Homo sapiens: one gene and its partners. The protein of the gene in region 4 purifies or fractionates together with the protein of the main gene of each other region. This does not show direct contact. Each region holds a gene or a part of one and is shown on either strand. Other genes may lie near its edges.

Region 1 (4,662 bases), on a different chromosome or scaffold from region 4:
GGCACGATCTCAGCTCACTGCAACCTCCTGGGTTCAAGCGATTATCTTGCCTCAGCCTCCTGAGTAGCTGGGGTTACAGGTGCGCACCACACACCCAGCTCATTTTTGTATTTTTAGTAGAGATGGAGTTTTACCGTGTTGGTCAGGCTGGTCTCGAACTCCTGACCTGGGGTGATGCACCCGCCTTGGCCTCCCAAAGTGCTTGGATTACAGGAATTGAGCCACTGCGCCCAGCTAATTTTTGTATTTTTAGTAGAGATGGGGTTTCACCATATTGGCCAGGCTGGTCTCAAACTCCTGACCTCAAGTGATCCACCCACCTCGGCCTCCCAAAGTGCTGGGATTACAGGCGTCAGCCACCGCGCCTGACCGCTTTTTTTTCTTTCTTTAGAGAGACGGGGTCTCCCTATGTTGCCCAGGGTGGTCTTGACTCTTGTGGTCCTGTGACTCCCCAGACTTCAGGTGTGCAAGCCTGATTTCTGACCCTTGGCCAGTCACACTTTCTCCTTTGTCTGGCCTTTGAACTTGGGGTGCTCTGCACTTGTTTACTCTGCGTAGATTGCTCTCATCCCAGATTTCATGGTTGGCTCCTTTCCACAGCTCAGATTTCAGCTCCGGGACGTTCCCTGACCCAGTCTAAAGTAGCCTTGCACCCATTTATTGCATCTTTCTTTCTTTTCTTTTCTTTTTTTTTTTTTTGAGACAGGGTCTTGTTCTCTTGGCCAGGCTGGAGTGCTGTGGGAAAATCTGGGCTCACTGCAGCCTCAACCTCCGGGACTCAAGTGATCATCCTGCCTCAGCCACCCAGAGTAGCTGAGAATACAGGCGTGCGCCACCAGGCTCGGGTAATTTTTTGTATTTTTTTTTAGAGACAGGGTTTTGCCATGTTGCCTAGGCTGGTCTTGAACGCCTGGGCTCAAGTGATCTTCTCGTCTCAGCCTCTCAGAGTTCTGGGATTACAAGTGTAAGCAACCATGCCTGGCCTTGTGTATTTCTTTTTGGTTTTTTTTGTGATGGAGTCTTGCTCTGTCACCCAGGCTGGAGTGCAATGGTATGATCTCGGCTCACTGCAACCTCCACCTCCTGGGTTCAAGCGATTTTCCTACCTCAGCCTCCCGCATAGCTGGTATTACAGGGGCCCACCACTATGCCCATCTAATTTTTGTATTTTTTAGTAGAGACGGGGTTTCGCTGTGTTGGCCAGGCTGGTCTCGAACTCCTGACCTCAGGTGATCCGCCCGCCTTGGCCTCCCAAAGTGCTGGGGTTACAGGTGTGAGCCACTGTGCCTGGCCAAATAATTTTTTTTTTTTTTTAAGATAGAGTCTTGCTTTGTTGCCAGGCTGCGGTGCAGTGGTGTGATCTCTGCTCACTACAGTCTCCGCCTCCTGGGTTCAAGCCATTCTTCTGCCTCAGCCTCCTGAGTAGCTGGAATTACAGGCGGGCGCCACCACACCCAGCTAATTTTAGTATTTTTAGTGGAGATGGGGTTTCACCATGTTGGCCAGGACAGTCTTGATTTCCTGACCTTGTGGTCTGCCCGCCTTGGCCTCCCAAAGTGCTGGGATTACAGGCGTGAACCACTGCACCTGGCCTTTTTTTTTTTATTGAGACACAGTCTCACTCTGTCACCCAGACTGGAGTGCAGTGGCACAATCTCGGCTCACTGCAGCCTCCACCTCTGAGGCTCAAGTAAGTCTCATGCCTCAGGTGTGTGCCACCACACCCAATTAATTTTTTATATTTTTGCTATAGACAGGGTTTCACCATGTTAGCCAGGCTGGTCTCAAACTCCTGGCCTCAAGTTGATCTGCCCACCTCAGCCTTCCAAAGTGCTGGGATTACAGATGTGAGCCACCTTGCCCAGCCTAATTTCTAAATTTTTGTAGAGACGTGGTTTCACTGTGTTGCCTAGGCTGTGGTTGAACTCCTAGGCTCAAAGGATCCTCCTGCCTTGACTCCCCTAAGTGCTGGGATTACAGGCATAAGCCACCATACCAGGCCCTTTTTTTTTTTTCCCCTGGAGACAGAGTCTTGCTTTGTCACCCAGGCTAGAGTGCAGTGGTGTGATCTCGGCTCACTACAACTTCCGCCTCCCGGGTTCAAGCGATTCTCCTGCCTCAGCCTCCCAAGTAGCTGGGGTTACAGGTGCCTGCCACCACACCTGGGTAATTTTTGTATTTTTAGTCATGTTGGCCAGGCTGGTCTCGAACTTATGACCTCATGATCCGCACGCCTTGGCCTCCCAAAGTGCTGGGATTACAGGCATGAGCCACTGGGCCCAGCCCAACCTGTAATTCTTTAGGAAGATTTATATTCAAACAAGTCCTTTTTTTATTTAAAAGAAAAAAACACACACACACAGGGTCTTACTCTGTCACCCAGGCTGGAATGCACTGCCACAATCACGGCTCATTGCAACCTCTAGCTTCCAGGCTCAGGTGATCCTCCCACCTCAGCCTCCTGAATAGCTGGGACTACAGATGCATGCCACCACGACCAGCTAATAATTTGTATTTTTTGTAGAAATGGGGCTTTGCCATGTTGCCCAGGCCAGTCTTGAACTCCTGGGCTCAAGTGATCCTCCTGCCTCAGCCTCCCAAAGTGCTGGAATTACAGGCATGAACCACCACACCCAGCCCAAGTACATATTTTAACTAACAGCTTCACAGGAACTCTGTGGATTACTTAGAGCATGTGCTTTGGGGTTTCGAGTCCTGCCTCTGTGGCTAACTTTCTGTGCAGCCCTGGGCTAAGATATTTTACTTTTCTTTGAGACAGAGTCTCGCTCTGTTGCCAGCCTGGAGTGCAGTGGTGATCTTGGCTCACTGCAACCTCTGACTCCCAGGTTCAAGTGATTCTCCTGCCTCAGCCTCCCGAGTAGCTGGGATTACAGGCGTGAGCCACTACGCCCGGCTAATTTTTGTATTTTTAGTAGAGATGGGGTTTCACCGTGTAGGCCAGGATGGTCTCGATCTCCTGACCTCCTGATCCGCCCACCTCGGCCTCCCAAAGTACTGGGATTACAGGCATGAGCCACTGCGCCCAGCCACAATATTTCACTTTTCTAACGTCGTTTTTCTTTCTTTAGTTCTTTTTTTTTTTTTTTTAAGAGTCCTAGCCCAGGCTGGGCGCGGTGGCTCACACCTGTAATCCCAGCACTTTGGGAGGCCGAGACCATCCTGGCTAACCGGTGAAACCCCATCTCTACTGAAAAAATAAAAAAAAAATTAGCCAGGCATGGTGGTGGGTGCCTGTGTTCCTGGCTACTTGGGAGGCTGAGGCAGGAGAATGGCATGAACCCGGGAGGTGGAGCTTGCAGTGAGCCGAGATCGCGCCACTGTACTCCAGCCTGGGCGACAGAGTGAGACTCTGTCTCAAAAAAAAAAAAAAAAAGAGTCCTAGCTCAGTAGGTAGGACTATAGGCCCATCCCACCATGCCCAGCTAACTTTTTTTTTTGTAGCAATGCCCAGGCTGGTCTTGAACTCCTGGCCTCCCAAAGTGCTGGGGTTACAGGTGTGAGTTGCCATGCCTGGCCCTGAGCCTCAATTTCATTACTTGAAGTATGAAATAAATTAACACATTAAAGTGTTGCTAGGATTAAAATGAGGTCCTTATGTATTCAAAAATCGTACAGAGATTTTTGAGGCCCTTCTTATAGCAAAACTCCCATTTACATTTTTCTGGAGCCTGGAGAAATGTGTCCAGACTGAGTGAATAGGTGCTATTTGCTGTACTTACATTATCATTTATAAAATACTACTGGTGGTCATCCTGGAAAGATGATCCCAACTGCCTATATCCTGTTCATCATTAACTTGTGTGTCCCAAAAAATCTTTTGAAAAGTTGCTAAATAGTGAATATTTACTATTTTATGAGGGCCTGCCAGTTCCCTGCCAGTGGAATTGTTTCAAGTCAATGATTCATCTGTTCAGTCATTTGGAAAATACTCTTTTTTTTTTTTTTTTTTTTTTTTTTTGAGGTGGAGTCTTGCTCTATGGCCAGGCTGGAGTGCAGTGGTGTGATCTCGGCTCACTGCAAGCTCTGCCTCCCAGATTCAAGAGATTCTCCTGCCTCAGCCTCCCAAGTAGCTGGGACTACAGGCATGTGCCACAACGTCCAGCTCATTTTTTGTATTTTTAGTAGAGATGGGGTTTCACCAGGTTGGCCAGGATGGTCTCCAACTCCAGATCTTGTGATCTGCCCACCTCGGCCTCCCAAAGTGCTGGGATTGCAGGCGTGAGCCACCGTGCCCGGCCGGAAAATATTCTTCATGTATAGCAGTGTTGGGTACCGCAGGAGATTTTTTAAAAAGTAGCACTCAGTCCTTACCTTCAAGGAACTTAGTTTAGTTGTGGGAGATAAGCTATATCCATGAGAAGTTTGGCTGAGAGGAGGCGGAGTTGGGCTCCCTGCAGGTGGGGAGGAGGGTCAGTTCTCATTTCTGAGGGAGATGAGCTGACGTCTGCAGTTTGGAAAGGAACCAGAAGTTCCACATGGTGGTTTTGCAATAGAACATGCTCGTGTTTACCAAGCAATTCTGAGGGAAAGGCTAAAAAAAGTGTTAGTTTATCAACTTGATAGAACTAACAGGTTTCGATGAGCTTTGATTCAATATAATGCTGCGGCCAGGCATGGTGGCTCACGCCTGTAATCCCAGCA
Region 2 (4,662 bases), on a different chromosome or scaffold from region 4:
TGGGTCTGGGGACTTGGGGAAGGCCTCTCTGAGGAGGGGGCATTGGTTGAGATGGCCTCCACCAAAAATATATCTTGGGGGAAAGTATTCCAGATAGGGAGAGCCATCCGCACACAGGCCCTGCCTGCCGTGATGGGAACTTGTGTATTCAAGGAACAGAAAGGCCCTGCTGAGCCAGTCCCAGGAGTAAGGGTGTGCAGCACGCGAGGACGCTGGAGAGGCTGCAGGCAGGGAAGGACTTGGATCTAGCAGCTTCCAGAATCCAAATCAGAATCTGGATTGCCTCCCCTTCTCCCCCAGGGACGGCTGCTTCCCAGGGTCCGGCACTGGGCTTGGACACAGGCTGATTCCTTTCAGGTCACAAGCAGGATGAAGTTTGGGACAATGTGCCATGTGGCCCGCCGACCCCCTGCCACCCAAGTGCCCCTGGCCACTGCCCGAGGCCAAGAGCTGCAGGGATGCAGCCCCCACCCACCTCCAAATCCTCTCGTCTTCAGTTCCTCATCCCGGATGATGGTTGGGATGATCCCCAGCTCCTTTCCAACTTTGTTAATCTCCTGGACATGTTCATGGAAAAAACAACAGCACAACAACACATGAAGATGGCTGGAAACAGGAGAGGCCGAGGCTGGGGCCAGGGATGAACCGCTGCCTGTGCCGCGTCGGGGAGCCGGGCTTGGGAGCCAGCTTCGCGTGTGATGAAACCCAGAAGAGGGGGCTCACCCTCCACACACTCTCATTTCCTGTAGCTCTGGCTGTGGTCCTGCCAAGGGGCCTTGAAGAGGAGGCTCTGTCCTCCCCACACACCCTTTCCTGAGGCTTCCTGGAGCCCGGCAGACAGCAGCGCTCCGCCGAGGGCAGCCCTGAGGTTCCCTGGCCACGTCAGGGTGTGGACAGCCCCAGGTTTCCTCTGGCTCTCCTGGGAGTCTATGACACCCACCCCAGCCTGGTCCCACCCCCGGCCTGATGACGCCACAAACCTCGAGGAAGGTGTCGGTGTTCATCTCATTGCAGGGTGTGTCCACGATGCGGGCTGCTAGCCGCACGCCGTCTGTGGCATTCGCTAAGCACTAGGGAGAAAAAGGCCATCACTGGGGACCAGGTGGGAGGCAGATGTTCTCCCCTTGTCCATCCCCCAGGAACAAAAGGCAGCAGAGGCAAACATCACCCACAGGGCTACTGACAGGGCAGCAAAGAGAGGGGAGAGGGGGACCATGGCTCTCGCTGCCTGCCCCACCCCCAGCAACCCAGGGCCACCGGCCACCTGTAGAAAGAACCTTCAGCACAGCCACCACCCTGCGCCTCCACAAATATACAGGAGTCCCCAGCCTGGGGTCCTGCCCTTCTGTATCTGGATCTTTTCCAAGCCCTGTGTCCTGTTTCTCCCCTGATTCCAGCTACAACTGAAGGTAGGTGGCCCTCATGCCAGCCCCTGAGTATGCCCTGAGCTTCCCACGCCTCACCTCTGCAGATCCCACAGTCCTTTCCCTCCCACCAAGATCCCAGTCATCCTTCGAGGCACTTCTCATAGGCCGTATCTACCAGTAGCTTTTCCAGATCCTCCCCACCAAGCAGAAGCACTCTACATCCTGAGTGCTTGAACCTGCTGGCCCTCCCAGACGCCTTCCCTCTGGGCCGTTGCTTTCCTCATGAGTCCCACGCAAGTCCCTCATAAACCCTGCAAGACAGATGGGGGTCTGGCTGCCCTAGTGCTGTCACTTGACACAGCACGGTTCTGGGCACGGAGGGGAAGGACACAGAGGGAGGTCTCGCCTCATGGAACTGACGTGTCCACCCAGGAACTGAAAACATGGGCCCTGCTGGCCTGGCAGGGCTTCAGAGCCCACACTCGAAGGCAGGGCAGAGAGGGGCACATGCACCAAAGCACACATCACGTGGGTCCCAAAAATGTGTCCTTCAGCCCTGGCTTGGGCCATTCTTTGCCTTCTCATGTGTGTCTCACATCTGCCCTGGGAGCTTCACTCTCTCTCAGCTGAATCTGCGGGCACCCCTTCCCCACCCTGTTCCCCACTGTGCATCCCCAGGCACAGAAGCTTCAGACAGCTGGCTGCTTGCACGGCCTCCCTTGCTCACCAGAAAGACAATATTAAGAGAAGAGCAGCGCTGTTTTGCGGGGGTGCAGGACAGCAGCAAGTTTATCATCCCTGCCTCTAGTCTCATAATGTCAGGGCAGCAGGCGCCGGGTCGATACTGCAGCCTGGCCACCTCCCCCGCCCTGCCGAGGTAATTAAACCCCAAAGCCTCAAAGGTAGAAACCTGGACCTTGACAGCTCTGATATGAATGTGCCTGAGCCGTCCCTGCCGCCTGTCAGCGGGTTCTCTGTCTGTGAGGGCATGTGGGGACTCGACAAGGACTGTCTGAGAAGTGCGTCAATGCTGTGTGACTTGCCTCCAAGGAGGCCAGGTGTCACCTGGAAGACCCCAGACCACGGCGAGCTCGGGGCTCTGACGCAAGAGCGCTCCTGTGGGAGGGAGGGCAGGGCTGCGGGTGCCCTCCACCAACACACAGCCATGCTGCACTGGGGAAGGGTGTCCCTTACCATGAGAGGAGGACCACTCATTCTGTCCACATGTGCCAGGCATCGTGCAAGACTCTGAGAATTCAGAGACGTCCAAGGGAGTCAAGCTCAGCAGAGACTCACAGTACACAGTCCCAGTCCCTGCTACAGAAGAGGATGAGGCCACAGGATGCAGAGGGGACAGGGTCCTGGGTGGGGACTGGAAGGTTCCCGCAGGGAAGAAAAGGGAGAAGCTGAGTACAGGCCACGTGGGTGTCAGATGATGGTGTGCTCAGGACCCAAGAGGGCTGAGTGGTGGCAGCTGCAGCTTAACACCTGGCTCTGCCCCTTGCTGCCGTGGCCCCGGTGAGCCACTCAATGTCGTGGGGACAACAGGATGTATCTCACAGGGCTGTAGTGAGAATTCAGTGCACCAGCACGTGCTGTGTGCACACTCCTGCCTCAGCGCAGGGCCTGACAGCTGACAGCACTCAGAAGATGCCACCTTGCACACACCCAGATGTGCCTTTGGAAGGCGAGTGACGCAGGAGCTGGAAGGAGGCCATCTGTGGCAGGGTGACCAGGAGACTGCTGCCACAGCCCAGGAGAGCACCTCAAGGCACGGCACTGGGCAGAGCAAAGACAAGAAACAGGACACACTAGCTAGTTGGGACCAATGGGGTCGGGGGCCATGGGGACTGACTGCCCCCACTGGTTCCATCACCAGATGTTTACTGGGCCTTTTTCATGTGTGGGGTCGGGTGCTGGGATCACTGTGCACAAGACCAGGTCCCTGCCCTCTGGGGACTCCCAACCCAGTGAGGAGCACAGGAGATCAACAAAGATGTGACATGTCTAGTAGTGATGGTTTAGCTGACAAATGGGAGGGTGGTGCTAGCCAAGAGGGCCAGGCCTCCCTGGGGAGGGAATGTGGGCAGAGGCTGGATGGAGACCATGCTGGGCTGGAGAGGGAAGGACCCCTGCAGAGGAGCAAGAGCAGGAGTGGGCGTGGCCAGTCTAAGGGACAGCAGGAAGTCCACAGGAGGGGAAGGGACTGAGGGCAGCAGAGGTCAGGGTGCCCTGCTGTCCTCGGAAATAAGGGTGATGCTTGAGCCCCCGGTGGGCTCTGCGGGCACCCGTGCCCACCTGGATGGCAGGCCTGGAAGTCAGAAGAAAATCCCTAAAGACAGAGAGAAGAGGCAGATGCTGGTGTCTGACCCGGAGAGGGCTGAGCAGGTCGGAACGCTGGAGAGGCCATGAAGGGGATGCCGAGAGGTGGCAGCAGTCTGGGGAGCAGCGGGAGGGAGGGAGACCTCTGGATGGGGCAGATGCACTTCAAGGAGGGACGGCAACACCCCATCCAGCAGTCCTTAGAAAACAATGTCAGGATGGGGGCAAAAACTCTGTCTCCATGGGTTAAGAGGGAAAAGAGGATTAAGCAAGGCAAACCAGTTAGACTTTTTTAAAAGCTCAGAGACGAAGGGAAAAAAGGGGAGCTATCTCATGCTGGTGAAGATGGAAGAATTTGGGTTGAGGGGCAGTGGTTACAGGCCTCAGAGAGCACACAGTGAAAGAAATGAGGTGTGGCCCAAGTGCTGATGTGGGAGAGCTTGCCTGGGTGAAGGCGACAGCCTTCCAGAGCCAGAAGTGAAGAATGAGCGCTGACACATGAGAAAAGACAACCTGGGTGGCGCTGTGGGCTCGGGGACTGGAGGTGGCAGGCGCAGAGGCTGGGACCGCTGCCGTGGGGACAGGAGCCTGATGTCAGGCCCATCCAAGGATCTGGAGCTGGGAAATCACTTCCGGCCTTGCAGCCTCAAAAGGATCATTCTCAGCATTGAGTGAAATAACACATGTAGAAGTGCTCCCTGTAAAGGGTGCAGCAACACACATGCACACACACCACACACACACCACTCATGCACACACTAGCACTCATACACACACAGCAACACACACAACACACACACACACCACTCATGCACACACCAGCACTCATACACACAGCAACACATGCTGCTCATGCACACACCAGTACTCACACACAACAACACACACCACACATGCACACACCACACATGCACACCACACACACACACCACTCATGCACACACCAGCAAACACACACACACAGCAACACATA
Region 3 (4,662 bases), on a different chromosome or scaffold from region 4:
TATTTGTTGTACCCCAGAACTTAAAAATTAAAAAAAACTTTATTTGTAAAATTGTTGAAACCTGTTTATTCACTGAGAAGACTTTACTATAAAATTATTCTTAATCTATATGAATTCAGTTCTATTGTGTTACCTTCAAATTGTATGGATTTCAAATGGTGGTAAAAGTTGTAGACATATTTGTCACTATATACTTGACTACAGCACAACTTCATTCTTTTAAATTGAACAAAAAAAACCGTTTTACTTAGGTTGTAGCTTCTAAGGTTCTTTACTCTGAAATCCACTTGAAATGTGTACTTCAGTTTATGATTCACAATTAGGGAAAATCTGTTTTTTCTTTTTCTCATTTTCTTTTCATTCTTTTGTTTCTGTCCTCTGTTGTGGCCTTTCCTTTACCTTCTGAATTCCTTTCTTTCCTTTCCTATAGGCACTGATGTTCTTTACATTGGCCCTCTGAAAGGTGAGCCTTGCCACAATTTAAAGACAAAAAGTGTTGGTCTGTCTGCTTCAGCTATATCCTTATTTTCTAATTCTCTTGAACTGATTTTTTTTCCCCAGAATTTCTGCCAACTTAATTATATTCTTAAGGCTTTATTACGTGTTTTAATGTTATACAAGGAGAATTAATTACACATGTTTTCATAACAGGTAAAATAATATACTAAGCTTTCCTTTCAGAATAAAACTTTTGTTTCACAATGTGCTTTATATCATAATATGTGTTATTATTGAAAAATAAGATGCTGTACTGCATACTTACTACCTGTTTTTCATGTTACTTATTAGGAAGTATATATTCAAGCCCAGGACTGTATAGTAAAACAATGACCCCCACTTATGATGCTCATGATGGAAGCCCCTTGTCACCAACTTCTGCTTGGTTTGGTGACAGTGCTTTGTCAGAAGGCAATCCTGGTATACTTGCTGTCAGTCAACCAATCACGTCACCAGAAATCTTGGCAAAAATGTTCAAGCCTCAAGCTCTTCTTGATAAAGCAAAAATCAACCAAGGGTAAGTTTTAAGATATAGATAAAATTGAATTTCTTCATCCAGCTAGAGGTAGAAATATTGTCTTCATTCTGTGTTGTTTTGTTCCACTGTTCTTAATTTGTCCAGATGGCTTGATTCCTCAAGATCTCTCATGGAACAAGATGTGAAGGAAAATGAGGCCTTGCTGCTCCGATTCAAGTATTACAGCTTTTTTGATTTGAATCCAAAGGTACCGAGGGTTTAAAGGGATCTTTTTTTTTTCCCCATTAATTTGTTTTGTTCACATGGATGTTTGTTTTTGGAAGTCGGTGGAATAAGGAATTATTTGTATATAGGAAATCTTGAATAATTATTAAAAACCCAAACTTTTAGGCAAAGGTATTTGTATTTTAAATAAGTCTATTTTAGTAGGTTGGAAGCATAACTAAACCTTTTTATTGTTGTTATTAAGATAATGAAACTTTTGGCTGATTTGGTTTTATCTTTTTTTTAATCTCTAAGCTCTTAGAGTGTCATGATTTGTATTTTAAAGGTACTCTTTTGGTACTATAGAACTGGCAAAGTTTAGGCCGGGTGCAGTGGCTCAACGCCTGTAATCTCAGCACTTTGAGAACCCAAGGTGGGCGGATCACATGGTCAGGAATTCAAGACCAGCCTGGCCAACATGGTGAAACCCCGTCTCTACTAAAAATACAAAAACTAGCCACGCATGGTGGCACACGCTGGTAATGCCAGCTACTTGGAAGGCTGAGGCAGGAGAATCACTTGAACCTGGAAGACGGAGCTTGCAGTGAGCCGAGATCATGCCACTGCATTCCGGCCTGGGCAACAGGGCAAGACTCCATCTCAAACAAACAAAAAAAAGAATTGGCAAAGTTCATTTTTAAAATATAAGACCTCTCTTCAACTATATTTAAATAAAAGTTTCAAAAAGGTTACCTTTTCAATTACTTTTAGATTACTAATTACGTGCCAAAAGATGTTGCTTCAAAAAAACGTTTTTTTCTTGAGACAGGGTCTCACTCTGTCCTCCAGGCTGGAATGCAGTGGTATGATCATGGCTCACTGTAACCTCAAAGTCCTGGACTCAAGCCATTCTCCCACGTCGCCTCCCAAGTAGCTGGGACTACAGGCTCACCCAGCCACACCTGGCTTTCTTATTTTCTGTAGAGACAGAGTCTCACTATTTCACCCAAGCTGGTCTCAAAACTCCTGGGCTGAAGCCATCCTCCTGCCTCAGCCTCCCAAAGTGCTGGGATTACCGGCCTGAGCCACCATGCTCAGCCAAATTTTTCTTAGGTCTACATTTTTTTCCTCTGTAACAGACAAACACTGTTACTTGTCTTTACTATGATTGGTATTATCTCTGCTACCATAGTACTTCACTTTTCTGGTAAGATTTAACTTTACCATAAATATCTGGAGCTTTTTTCCCCCGTAGAAAACACTTGGCACAGAGGTTTGAATCTTTTACTTCTCTTTCAGCCTGGGGAAAGAAACCTCTCTTGGCTACCCTCTCATCCTTTTCATGTTTAGAGTATAGTCTAGATTTTAATGTTATGTTTACATTCTTTTATTATATGCTTAAGTAATTCTTTATACAACAGTAAAATCTCTATAATAAAATTATAGAAAATAATTTTAATTCATTTTCAGGCCACATCATACCTACTTTTAGTAAAGCCAAAGCTACTTTGGGAATAGTTACATTTGTGAGGGGAATGGAGATGTATTTTGTCAACGTTCTAAAATACATGTTGAGCATTCCTAATTTGAAAATGTAGAATGCTCCAAAAGCTAAGACTTTTGAGGGCTGACATGATGCTGAAAGGATATGCTCATTTTGGATTTTTATGTTAGGGACACTCAACTGGTATAATGGAATATTCCATCATCTATAAAAATTCTAAATTCAACACAGAAGGTCTCAAGCATTCTGGATAAGGGATACTCAATCTGCAGTATTCTTAAGGCATTACTATTGACTTTTATTTATATAATTAAATGGATAATTGAATAACATATAAGTAAACATTTTCCACAAGTATATTTGCCCTGTATTTTGCATACTTAAAATAACTGCCGTTTCCAAGGACTTGCCACTTTATCTGGGTATGCTTCTCCACAGTGAACAAAATGTTCCCCAGAATAATTTGCTTTCTGATTACATGTTTGTATGGCAAGTTGCAGTAATAACACTGAAAAATAATCGGTAGTTCCGCCTTACTTTAATGTCATCAAATTAGATTTCTTATGTTAAAGGCTATAATGTCTAGTGGTTATTTCCCTGAAAAATAACATACAGAATCTACTTTTTAATACTGTACAATCAATTATTCTCTGTCATATTTTAATGTCATTTTTAATGGAAAATTAGATGTGGGCATATATAGGCATGTCTGACCCCATAGGTATCCTTCTAATAATACTTGATTGTAAATAAAAATTCTTGCTTGTAAATTAAGATCCCAGGAAAAAAAGCATTAAATTTTTCTTGTCAATTGAATATTCAGAGTTTGAAATTTTTCAATGGTAAAGGTTATATATTACAAAAGAACTATTTCTCTTGTTGCAGTATGATGCAATCAGAATCAATCAGCTTTACGAGCAGGCCAAATGGGCCATTCTCCTGGAAGAGATTGAATGCACAGAAGAAGAAATGATGATGTTTGCAGCCCTGCAGGTAGTTGAAAGGTCTAGTAAATGGGACTTATTCCGGTAAAGGGTAGGGAGGTATTTTTAAACAGTAAAGTGGAATAGTAATTCCAGTAACATTTCACGAGACAGAATTTTTGCCATGAAGAAAGTGAGTAGACACTTAGGAAAGCAAAACAAATACATTTTAGTTTGATTTTTTATCTTTTCCAAGAGTTCAGTGGTATACTTAAGTACTTTTCTCTATTTTGTAGGAAAAAAATTATCCTATTTTGTAGGAAAAAAATTATCCTCTCACCCCCAAATATAAATCTGCTCAAAGCTCCTCAGTTTTTCCTTGGAAAGAAAATATTTATTAAAAATCAGATTTCTGAAATCTAATCTGAAGCTTACCTGTATAATTTCATAAATAGCCAGGGATGATACAACACACTATAAAATGGGCTGTAGCAAAGCGATGCTTTTAGGTGATAAGATTTAGAGAGACTAGTGGAACCAAACCTTTTTCTACAATGATAATCCTTAAGTAGATAGCTAACATTGTCCTTAGATTAAACCAGTTTTTTCATATGTGGTTCTTACATACCACCTCCTTCAGAATTATAGGGGAGCTTATTTAAAAATTAATTATCCACTTCATGAATAACTTTAAGGTGGCATCCACACATCCACATTCTTACAGATACTGAGGTCTGATGACCAAATTAATTCATCTTTCTTAAATTTCAGATACCCGAGTAATGCTTTGGCAAGTATTCCCAGTTATGACGGGATTCTAGGTTCAGCCTAAAGTCCTGATGAAGTTGGTGTTCTATAAATAACAGAAGTACAGGAAGCAGAGTTGACATTCAGTTGAAGAACTTTTCACTGTAGAAGGGATTTTGTTTTTCCTTAGAACACAAACAAAAATGCTCTCAGTCTTCCAAATGCCTCCTTTATGCATCCAGAAAAGTTTTCAGTTGTGACCCAAAAAGTTGACATTAGAAAGCAAGAATGGGGAGTGAGGTTAGCAA
Region 4 (5,410 bases):
TGTCTTCTTTACCATTCTCACAGTCCTGCTTCCCTGTTGTCTGCGCACATGCCGAGCACACTCCATCCTTAAGTCTTTGCATGCCCTTCTTTCTGTCCGGATAAGCACAGGCCTGCTGCATTACACGTCTCTGCTCACATCTCACCTATTCAGAGAAGCCTTGCCCATTCATCCTATCTGAAGTGGTCTACTCCAATTACTGTCAATATTACATCACTCTTTGTTGACTCCTCAAACTGCACATCACAAACAGTACTTACTTTATTTTCCTGTTCCTACCCTCTCTCCTATTATAAAGAACGCTCCCTAGGTATCAAGACCTTGTCTGTCTTGTTCGTTACTGCATTTCCAGTACCAATGCTCAGCACATTGCAGCCACTAATAAATATTTGCTGAAAGGATGGAGAAACCAACATACCTTATAGCTATTAAGGGTGTTGATCAGAGAGGATGAAGATGGTTATCTGTCTTTAGCACCACCCCAAACAGCACGATCCGGACAGTAACCTGGATCTCCACCTACACACATTCTTAGAGGATAGGAGCCACCGCCAAAGAAAACCGCCCATGGTAGTTGCACAGTGAGATCTGAAGTCAGAGTATTGCTACATAGTATTAACTTTTCAGTGAGGTATTTTGGAATGCTTACAACTGTGAAGCTCAAGAGATAGATTAATGTGAAATCTCTAAGTGAGTTCCTGAAAAAAAATTGAGAACAACAAAAACAATTTTTTATATATTTAATGCTAAGCAATTTAAAAAATGTTTTCGGACAGGTGCGGTGGCTCACGCCTGTAATCCCAGCACTTTAGGAGGCCGAGGCGGGCCGAGGTCAGGAGTTCGAGACCAGCCTGGCCAAAATGGTGAAACCCTGTCTCTACTAAAAGTACAAAAATTAGCTGGGTGTGGTGGCCTGTGCCTGTAATCCCAGCTACTCGGGAGGCTGAGGCAGGAGAATCGTTTGAACCCGGGAGGCAGAGGTTGCAGTGAGCCGAGATGGCGCCATTGCACTCCAGCCTGGGCAACAGGGCAAGACACCATCTCAAAAAGACAAAAAGTTTAAAAAATTTTCATATGCTCTATTTTATTTGAGTCTGTCACCTGCCTGATTTAGGGATGGTGGATAGTATTATTCTCAGTTTGCAGGTAGAAATATGAAGACTTATGGAGACTAAGTGACCTGTACAAGGGCAGGCAACTGTACAACTGGCATTAGAGTAGTCTCAGACTCAAATCAAGACTTCTGATTTGAAGTTCCTTATTTTCCTCTATCGCACTCCATTAATTTATTTAATGTACATTATTGAACACCAACTATTTCAGGTACTGTGTTAGGTGCAGCATATAATAAGAAAGTTGATAATCTGTCTATTTTACAATTAAAAAAAGAATGTGCAATACATGCACTTGGGGAAAAATTCAGTACAGTAACTGCTACTCTTCTCCCCTCTCCCTCTTCTCCTAATCCCTCTCTCCTGATATAATCACTGTTATCTGGAAATCTTTGACTATACAGGCTAAGTCCCCTGTATCTGCCGCGAGGTCCTTCCTGGAGGTGCTGACTGGACTAGCTGATGTTGGCTAGATGACCGCCAACCAGATGACCTTGGCTAACTGATCTTATCCCTTGGGCCGCTGTGGCACAGGATGAGTGAGCTACGCCTGGTAACAAGAGTGCCACTCTCGTGTAAGGGGGCTGCGAAGTAGAAAGGAGGCCAGCCCTTTGGAAGATGTTTCTAGAGGGTGTGGGCAGAACCAAGTCTCGGTAGTTAGGAAGATCTTGGCTCCAAAGTTTAACTTGCAGCGTCCCGGCCGGGTTCACAGCGCATGGGACAGGGGGGGCGGGGCGATGCGGAGGCGGAGCGGGGCGATGCGATGCGGGGCGGAGCGGGGCGGGGCGGCGACGCGCGGCGCGGTGCGGCGCGCGGCCGACGTGGCAGCCGCAGGAGCATGCGCCGCCCGTGGCCATCTTGTAGGCGGGGACACGCCGAGGTAACTTCCAGGGTGCGCCTTCGTTGTCTTCTCCAAGCTGTAGTTCTACGTCCCGACCTCCCTATCATACCACACTCTTCAGCGACCACGCAGGCACTTTCCCGGTCCCCAGGTGAGCGCCAGGTGGCTCCGAGGGGCGTGTATGAGGGGGGTGGCATGGCATGGCATGGCTTGCAGGCGCCAGAGCCAGACCCCGAGGGACGGTGTCCCTGGAAGGTGGGCGGGCCGGCCGGCGCCACTGGACGCCGATGTCGTTTGCGAGCCCCCTAGTCCCGTGGTCCAGGCTCAGCTGTGGCGGCGTGCGGGGTGCAGCAGGCAGGAGTGCACATCGCAAGGTGAGCAGTTTCCGCTGGGGATGGCACGGTGGGCGCGGTTCGAGGGTCTCGCCCCGCGACACTTTGCTCCTGTCCAAGGACCAAGGCAGGAGCGCTCTGGCCCCACCTTCCAGGGCGCTGACTTTAGGGGAGACTGGCGGGAGCGCCGGCGGACCTTAGCCCGGCCCTGTCTGGCCTGGAGACGTGGCAGAGCCTGAGGGGAAGCCGCTGTCTCCTGAAACAGGATTTCGGCCGCTCTGGCCCTGGAGAGGCCCAGGAGGCTCGAGAGTCATCACACCAGGACCTGCAATGAAAGGAAGCTTATTTTCCCTGAGGTTACCCCATCGGTGCTTAGCGCCGCTTGGGAGAGTTTTTGCATTCTCTCGTTTCTTTGTTTGGTCTTGGGACCTGCTTCAGGCAAATTTGCAGATAGCACGTTTCCTAGATTGACAGAATTTATAGCCAATAGTGTTTTTGTCATTCGAAGTAGTTATTTTGAGAGACAACATGTGCATTTCTGCGATCGTGACACATCTTGGCATTCAGTCTTTCTCCTGTGCAGCCAGTGTTTAATTCAGTGAAAATTTATAAAATTTTATTTCGGGGTCAGATTAGGCTCTAACTAGCGCTCACTGTTTGGTAGTAGAGACAATCTTGTGGCACGAGTAGGTCAGCAATAATTGCTCTTAATGCTTTAAAGTTTATCAGAGCTTCACTCTTCCATTTCTTGTAAACTTGTAAATAGACATCCACTTTTTTTTTTTTTTTTTAACAGAAAAACCAAGGCACAAGCAAATTGGAACAACAGGGTCTAGCCGGACTGAGAACTCAGTTTTCCAAACCATTTTCTTCACTTTTTCTTTAGTGTTGATATATGAATAGTACTTTTCGTGACAAGACTTGAGCCCTAAAACAGTTACCAACTCTGACACTTCAGTATTGTTTTATCATAATAGGTTTTTTTAGTAGAAGGCACTATGTTTATGCATGTAAAATTTACCTCAGTATTGCCATTACGGCAGTTTTCATATAAAAAGCCATTAAAGACAAAGAAATTGATTATTTATTCCACTTAATGACTTTGTATTCATTGTACAGTTTCTTTTGCAGACACATTTGTTAATGTTAGGGATTCTCTTACAATAGGACTTCTACTAGTCATTGTAAGGATTGGGGAGCATCTGTAGTAGAGGGTGAATGACCAATAAAAAATTAAATGAAGAAAAGAGGGAGCTTTGGTTGAGGAGTGGTAAAATCTCCAAAGGGGCATTTCTATCTCAGGTTATTTACCTTCGATGTATAGGTACTGAATGAAAGGATTCAGCCTCCCCGGATCCCTGTTCTCTGCTTAGTGCCATAGATCTTTCCTACGTTCACAGCCAAACTTTTTGAAAGTGTCATGCGTGTTAGTCTCACCTGCCACTGCTCGATTCAGTTTACACTGGAATCTTTCTCCACTCTTTATATGAAAACCGTTCTCCCTAAATTCATCTCCAGTTTGGCAGATCCATTGAACTTCTCAGATAGTATCCTATTTGGCTTCTCTGCAGCATTAATACTGTTGCCCATTCATACTGCGAAACTCTGGCTTTTGGACACCACAGTCTCCTGGTTTTCTTCCTTTCTTTTAGCTCATCTCTTATTCTCTGCAAACTTGTCTTCCATCTTACTAAACCAATAATTGGTTTAACATCATATTCTCTTTTCTCTTGGTATTCTCTTACGTAATCTCATCTCAAAACATGACGTTAGACTATCAGTACACTGATGACACCCACATTTATGTGGTTGCTAAGCTCCAGACCAAGTCAGTGTCTCTACTTAGATGTTTGTTTCAAGGAACTTAAACAGCATGTCAAAGACTAAACATTTTATGATTTCCCCCATCCGACTCCCCCAGAAAGAACATCAAACACATTGGCCTTCTGCAGTGTTTCCTATCTTTGTGCATGGCACCACCATCTATCTAGTTGTGCAAGTCATGCCTCCTTTCCCTTCCTCCATACCCAGTCACTGAATTTTGCCACCTAATCTTGTCTTGAACTTATTTACTTTTCTCCATCTCCACTATCATCACTTGAGTCTAGGTCAGAGTTTTTCAACTTTGGCACTATTGAAATTTGGGGCCACTTAATTCTTGTGTGTAGGCTGTGCATTGGAGGATTTTTAGTAGTATTCCTAACCTCTTCATGCTATATGCCAGTAGTAGCCCTCTAGTAGTGACAATAAAAAATGTCTTGGACATTGCCAAGTGACCCCTTGGGGGCATAATCAGCCCTTCCCACTATGAAAATCATTAGTCTAGGTTGTTACTTACTTCTGATGGAACTACTTCTATATCTTCCTTAATGGCCTGTCTGCATCTGCTCTGTCTGCCCAGTGGCCCAGGCTGCATACTTTGTTCAGATCTTTTCAAAAAATAAATATGAATTGCTAATAACTGGAATCAGCCTAAATGTCCTTCAGCAGGTACATTTATACAATGGAATACTATTCAGCAATAAAAAGGAACCAATTTGATATATGCAGCAGCTTGGATGAATCTCAAGAACATTATGTTGAATGAAAAAAAGCCAACTTCAAAAGGTTATATGCTGTATGATTCGATTTATGTAACATTCATGGAACGAGAAAGTGATAGAAAACAGAGCAGTGTTTGCCAGGGCTTATGGTTGACGGGAAGGTAGATAAAGGAACAACATGAGGAAGTTTCTTTTTAGTGATGGAATGGTTCTATGTCCTGGTCGAGGTGGTGGTTATACGAGATTGTGCATATGATGAAGCTTCATAGAACTATGCACATACACACACACAGTAAATGTAAAAACATGTGAAATACAAATAAGATCTATAGTTAATAGTGTTGTACCAATGTCAGTTTCATGGTTTTGATCATTGTAGTGTAGTTATGTAAGATGCTGTTACTGAGAGAAGCTGGGTTTGGGGTACTCAAGAACTCTGCTGTTTCTACATTTTTTTTTTGAACCTAAAATTCCTTCAAAACAGTTAAAACAAAAGACAGTTATGCTACCCTCAGCTTGAATGCCTTACAGTTGTAGGATATGATAAATTTCTCTTCATAGATTTTAGCCTGTAAATTGTTA

Evidence for each region.
Region 1: the proteins of PRRC1 (region 4) and SHMT1 fractionate together in Homo sapiens (co-fractionation; one large-scale study listed by BioGRID). This does not show direct contact.
Region 2: the proteins of PRRC1 (region 4) and NPEPL1 fractionate together in Homo sapiens (co-fractionation; one large-scale study listed by BioGRID). This does not show direct contact.
Region 3: the proteins of PRRC1 (region 4) and FERMT2 purify together in Homo sapiens (affinity purification with mass spectrometry; one large-scale study listed by BioGRID and IntAct). This does not show direct contact.

Annotation. Positions count from the first base shown.
Region 1 is NC_000017.11:18,356,597-18,361,258, reverse strand, and holds part of SHMT1 (serine hydroxymethyltransferase, cytosolic), read left to right. Parts: intron 1-706; exon of another isoform or gene 707-845; intron 846-4,662. UniProt on the Homo sapiens protein: Interconversion of serine and glycine.
Region 2 is NC_000020.11:58,695,092-58,699,753, reverse strand, and holds part of NPEPL1 (probable aminopeptidase NPEPL1), read right to left. Parts: intron 1,071-4,662; coding exon 981-1,070; intron 558-980; coding exon 476-557; intron 1-475. UniProt on the Homo sapiens protein: Probably catalyzes the removal of unsubstituted N-terminal amino acids from various peptides.
Region 3 is NC_000014.9:52,877,597-52,882,258, reverse strand, and holds part of FERMT2 (fermitin family homolog 2), read left to right. Parts: intron 1-430; coding exon of another isoform or gene 431-463; intron 464-789; coding exon 790-1,015; intron 1,016-1,120; coding exon 1,121-1,223; intron 1,224-3,569; coding exon 3,570-3,677; intron 3,678-4,662. UniProt on the Homo sapiens protein: Scaffolding protein that enhances integrin activation mediated by TLN1 and/or TLN2, but activates integrins only weakly by itself. Binds to membranes enriched in phosphoinositides.
Region 4 is NC_000005.10:127,515,673-127,521,082, forward strand, and holds the start of PRRC1 (protein PRRC1), read left to right. Parts: upstream 1-1,967; 5' UTR 1,968-2,104; intron 2,105-5,410. UniProt on the Homo sapiens protein: May act as a regulator of the protein kinase A (PKA) activity during embryonic development.